Regions from separate parts of the Homo sapiens genome. Here region 1 is linked to region 2. The links come from fine-mapping of genetic effects on gene expression. A gene starts in region 2. The other region holds a variant in brackets. All regions are shown on one strand. Distances are from middle to middle.

What was found. PIP is the estimated chance that this variant, and not a neighbour inherited with it, causes the effect. A credible set is the group of variants that fine-mapping cannot tell apart.
Region 1: its variant is the best candidate, but not a certain one, in a credible set for the expression of MPG in monocytes (TOPMed, PIP 0.80).

What each region holds. Positions count from the first base shown.
Region 1 is chr16:499,624-502,522 of GRCh38, reverse strand. The region is part of intron 6 of RAB11FIP3 (RAB11 family interacting protein 3); the gene reads right to left. Among named protein-coding and RNA genes, the nearest start is that of LINC00235, 26 kb to the left of the region's middle. The variant A/G (reference allele first, on the strand shown) is at 1,733.
Region 2 is chr16:76,757-79,655 of GRCh38, reverse strand. It overlaps MPG (N-methylpurine DNA glycosylase), which reads right to left and starts at 1,431. Exons shown (of 4, transcript NM_001015052.3): 1 at 1,323-1,431; 2 at 1-231. The coding sequence starts at 1,346. RefSeq lists an enhancer at 1,352-1,646 and a silencer at 1,161-1,850.

The DNA.
Region 1 (2,899 bases), 420 kb before region 2:
TCCCAGGAAAGGTGTGGATCCCAGAAGTCTCACTCAGTGTCACCCTCACGGACACACTGGGAAACTGGTCCGACCGAGTCCAGGAAGACAGCAGACACACGTGTCCTCTGTGGCACCAGCTCCTGTGGACACGCCCCCAGCACCGCAGGCCATGCCAGTTACTACCCGGGCCAGGCTCGGGGACACAGCCTCATGGTCCTGAGTAGACGCAAAGGCCCATAGGCTGCGGCCTTGGGGCAGGAGCTTCTCCAGGGAGTGTGAACTTAGGCGCGCAGTAAGCGCGTGCTTGTGGTCACCACGTGGTCAGATTCGCTGTGGTGAATCTGTACCAACCCAAACTTGCCGGGAGTACAGAAAACTCTCAGAGCACTCGCACAGAAGAGCCAACAGCAAAGGTGCGTGTTCAGTTCTTTATACATCCTGGGAACCTCAGTACCAAGCCAGGCTCCAGGCTGACAGCCTGATGCTCAGAACTGCGTGACCGTTAAAAAGCACTGGCCCTCTCCGAGCTTCCTTGCCTATGAAATGGGGGGACCCTCTCCCAGCCTCCTTGCCTATGAAATGGGGGGACCCTCTCCCAGCCTCCTTGCCTATGAAATGGGGGGACACTCTCCCAGACTCCTTGCCTATAAAATGGGGGGACCATCTCCCAGCTTCCTTGCCTATGAAATGGGGGATCCTCTCCGAACTTCCTTGTCTGTGAAATGGGGGGACCCTCTCTGAACTTCCTTGCCTGTGAAATGGGGGGACCCTCTCCCAGCTTCCTTGCCTATGAAATGGGGGACCTTCTCCGAACTTGTCTGTGAAATGGGGGGACCCTCTCCCAGCTTCCCTGCCTATGAAATGGGGGGAGCCTCTCTGAACTTGTCTGTGAAATGGGGGGACCCTCTCCCAGCTTCCTTGCCTGTGAAATGGGGGGACCCTCTCCCAGCTTCCTTGCCTATGAAATGGGGGACCCTCTCCCAGCTTCCTTGCCTGTGAAATGGGGGACCCTCTCCGAGCTTCCTTGCCTATGAAATGGGGGGACCCTCTCCCAGCTTCCTTGCCTATGAAATGGGGGGATCCTCTCCGAGCTTCCTTGCCTATGAAATGGGGGGACCCTCTCCCAGCTTCCTTGCCTATGAAATGGGAGACCCTCTCCGAGCTTCCTTGCCTATGAAATGGGGGGACCCTCTCCGAGTTTCCTTGCCTATGAAATGGGGGGACCCTCTCCCAGCTTCCTTGCCTATGAAATGGGGGTCTAGAGGCAACTGAGGTTTAACCAAGGTCATGCATACAAACAGCTTGGCTAGGGACGTAGCAGAGTAAGAATTCCATAAAATGTTAATATTTTTCCACTGAAAATGTCTACCAAGTGTATGAAGTTCGATTTGCTTCTCAGTACGGACTGGGCTTGAACATTTCCATCTTTTTCCCCATAAACGCTCTGAGGAGACAAGCCCTGTGAACGTGCACCAGCTGGAACACACCGGTGCCCTTCTGGGGCTCTGGGGATTTCATCAGATTCTCAAAAGCTGCTGCTGATACAGATCATGTTCTTGGCCAGTCGCTGCTCTTAAACGCCCATGACCTTGCCCCCAAACATGAGCCACTCCAGGCATGAAGCTGCAACCCAGAGCCCATCCTGAGAGGCCACGACCTGTCAGCACTTCTGAGCTGTCCTAGAGGCGTAGGCACTTCTGGGGCTGACTCGGGGACACAGCCATCCCCAGGCACCCAGCGTGCAGCCACC[A/G]CACGTGGCCACCAACGTGAGGCAGAGGGTCCTCAGCATGGGTCATGCGGCTGCTTATTTATTTACTTATTTAATTTTTTTTTTTTTTTTTTTTTTTTTTTTTGCGACAGAGTCTTGCACTGTCACCTGGGCTGGAGTGCAGTGGTGCAATCTCAGCTCACTGCAACCTCTGCCTTCCGGGTTCAAGCCATTCTCCTGCCTCAGCCTCCCAGGTAGCTGGGATTACAGGCACCTGCCACCATGCCCAGCTAACTTTTTGTATTGTTTTTTTTAGTAGAGATGGGGTTTCACTATGTTGGCCAGGCTGGTCTCAAACTCCTGACCTCGTGATCTGTGCGCCTCGGCCCCCCAAAGTGCTGGGAGTACAGGCGTGAACCACCGCGTCCGGCTGGGGCTGCTTATTTAAATCCCCTAGAAAGAGGGATTCTCCAGCTACACCACACCCTCACTTGGAAGGACCCTCCTCCCAGAGAGGGAGCTGTGGAAAAAGCCTGACCTGCCCCACAGGGCAGTAGGTCGAGCCTGGCTGGTGAGCAAGGAGGTACGGGGATCCCTGAGGCCTCCCACCCAGGGCCCAGGGAGCCTGCCTGCTGTGAGCACTTCCTCCAGTCCTGATGGACTCGGCTCTGCCCGGAGCCCCCGGTCTCTGCACACACAGCTGACTGGAGAAAGCCACTTCCATCTCATGGACAGGGACAGAACAAGGCTGAGGGAGGTGAGCAATGCAGCCAGGCCCGGGGGCTACAATGGCTGCTGGCAAAACCCACCATCTCAGCAATAGTTCAGCGCGAAGGGCTGAGAACTGTGAGAAGCGAATCGCGACGTTTATTTTGCTCTTCCTTAGCCTCTTGTGGCAGATTTGGGGCAAAACAACAGATTAAATCTTGTGTACATATATTTACATGTGGATAGACACACTGCAGAAGAGGTCTCTGTTTTGTAAACTCTAACGACAGATAACTGCAGATGGAGCTTTTTTTTTTTTTTTTTTTTTTGAGACAGTCTTGCTCTGTCGCCCAGGCTAGAGTGCAGTGGCGTGATCTGGGCTCACTGTAACCTCTGCCTTCTGGGTTCAAGCAGTTCTCCTACCTCAGGCTCCTGAGTAGCTGGGATTACAGGCATGTGTGCCACCATGCCTAACTAATTTTTGTATTTTTAGTAGAGACG
Region 2 (2,899 bases):
GAACTCCAACCCCAGTCGGGTAAGGTGGCCCTTTGGGCTTGAGAAATAGATGCTGCGGTATGGGCCCGGAGTGGTGGGCGGTCCCAAGCAGCGCTCCCTGGGGCAAGGTGCCTGGGCTGCATCGGACGAGCTGTGTGGCTGCTCTGCAGGTGCCTGGGCTGCGTCGGACGAGCTGTGTGGCTGCCCTGCTCTAGCTGGTCGCTGCTTCTTTTGCCCCATCCGTCGGCAAAACTGTAATGGGAAAAAAAATAAATAAGCATCCGAATAGGAGACAGCTGTGTGGTAAGGTCAGGCTCAGGAAGTGCAAGGACTGGATCTGACCACCTGCTTTGGTTTCTTCATCTGCAAAGCGGGGGTGACCATCCTGTGGGTTGTTATGAGGCACAAACACCCTGACACACTCGAGGCCTCAGGAAATGATCACGTCTGACGATGGACGGCTGCTGCTGGGGGCAGGGTGGCTGCTCTGCCCCACATATGTGCGAGCTGCACGGCATGGGGGCCCAGGCTGCATGACCTGGGGAGCAGATGGGGGCCTGAGCCTGGGACAGCAGGGCTGGTGCCCTCCGATTCCCACTCATCATGCAGGTCCCAAGCAAACGTCTGAGCTGGTTTCTGGAGCCCTGCCCTTTCATCCAACCCTTGCCAGAATTCAAAACACAGGATCTTAGCAGGGCCAAGGTCGGACACACAGGGAGGGGTGAGCACCGGGGTGACCACCGCGTGCTCAGGGTCCCTAACTGTCCTCTGCTTCATGGCCCAGGCTGGATAACGAGCAAGTGGGGCAAAGGCAAGGTCTCCTGAGGGACTAGGAGGGTCTGCTGAGACCGAGCAGGCCGCCAGCCTCCCACCTCTGGCCTCCCCATGGGTAGGGGGAACCTAACCACACATCCTCGGCTGTCCTGGGGCAAAGGAGAAGGGAAGATGAAGGTGGCGGGTGAGCGCCGGCCTGGCAGCACCCGGAGGGCTGGTCTTTAGCAGCACCTAAGTCCTCCTGGCATGGGAGAGATGCATTATTTTTAACGGGAGTGCTGACGTTAATGTAGAACGGAGACTGCCAGTCGGCCTGGAACGGACGCTGACGTGACCGTCTCCGCAGCTCGGCCCGCGCTGCCAGCGCGCCGTGGGTTCAGCCCCCGGGCGCTGCGGCCACTGCTCTCGGCCCGAGCTTGGCCCTTGGCCTATGCTCTGGCTCTGCCCCGAACCCTCGGGGCGGTGGGCGCTACGCCCGTCCCCGGCACTCCCGCTCCCGCGGCCGCGCTCGCTGCTGCGCCTGGGGGTGGGCGCGTCTGTTCCGCGGGGCGGCCGAGGCGCGCGCTCACCTGGGCCCCGCTGCGCGCGGGCATCCGGCGGCTCGGGCCGGGGCTTCGTGGGACTCGGACCCCGGCGCGGAGCCCAGCAGCCGCCGACCACGGAAGCACCCCTAGGACCGGGGCGGAGCGGCGCCTGCGCAGAAGGGGACGGAAGCCGGGAGAAGGGGGGCAGTGAGCGCCGGGAACTGGCTGCGCCCCCGGGGCGGGGCGGGCCACGTGGAGGTGGATCCTCTTCCCAGCGCCCACCGCCAGGTCCGGACCGATTCCCGGGCCCGATGCGGTGCCTGCGAGGCGAGAGCGGGGAAGGGGCACCTGGGGGTGGGGCGAGCCCCGCACTGTGCCCCGGCGCCCCTCCCAATGAGCTGTCCGCCCCCGCCTGCGCCCTGGTCGCCTGGCGGCCCCAGAGCCCACTCCACCAGCCGGTGGTCAGACCACCGAGAGGACGGGCCCGTCGTGAACCTGAGTGGATCCTCGAGGGGCCCGGGCGGAGTGGTCGTGCTTTGGGGGAGGGGGCGGGCCGCAGACGTGTTTTCCGGTGGGGTGCCAGCGGAGTGAGCGCCTGGGAGGCCGCCCCAGCCCTGGTCCGGAGTGGGCCGGGGAGTCCTTATCCAGGAAGTGGACGCCAGGCTTGTGCGGAGGCCCCCGCCCCTGGCCGGGGTTGTCACAGGCTGGTCGGGGGAAGGAAGGAGGGAGCGGCGCGGATTCTGCCTCTGCAGCAGAGCCCCCATCCCTCTTTCCGCCCAGGGATGCTGAAGGGAGCTCGCCCACGTTCTGGGTTGGGCCTGCTGGAGCGCAGGCAGCCTCCTCTAGAGGCCGAGGCCAGACCAGGGCTGAACACGGCCCGGCAGTGCGCAGCCGTCCTACGCTTCTGAGGCCTCCCCGACGGCCCAGCGCCTGTAAGCTCTCACAACCTCTCAAGTCAGATCCATGCCCCTAGGGAGGGGCAGGGACGGTGCTTGGCCCAGTGGACGGAAGGGCCTAGGGGACGGGCCCTGAGGGAGCTGGGCACACTGCTGGCTCCCACGGCCCATGGCAGCCCCAGCACCCAGCAGAGCCATCCCCCGCTTCTGGCCACTTGAAGGTTTATCTGGGTCTGCAGGGCCCCTCCACTGTGGCAGGCACAATCCCACCCCACAACCCACCTCTGCCGCACAAAAACCCTCGAGGGGCTTTTCCTGAGCTTTGACTTCTGTGACCCTGGTCCTGGAAAGGAGCACCTGAAAAGGCCTTGAAGAGCAACTGGGCACCTGGCCGCGTCAGGTGGGAGACGCTGGGCAGGACAGACGCACAGGCCATGTGTCTGGAGCCCTCAGATGAGTGTGACACCTGGTCCTACAGAAAGGCTAACAGGGCAGGACCTGGTCTCCAACTGCCTCTCCTCCTCTGACCAGCCGTCCCACCCCCATGGGCCCCAGCCAGGACTTCCTGGGGAGGGAGGGGCCATCAGCCGGCTGGAAGCCACCAGCTGTTTGTAGCACTGTGTGCCGCTTCCCGGGGTGGGGGCATAATGTGTCATCAATCCGTGTTTATAAAGCAGCCCTGGATGTGATTCCACACCCTCCCTGCTTATCTGCAGCCATGCCTCC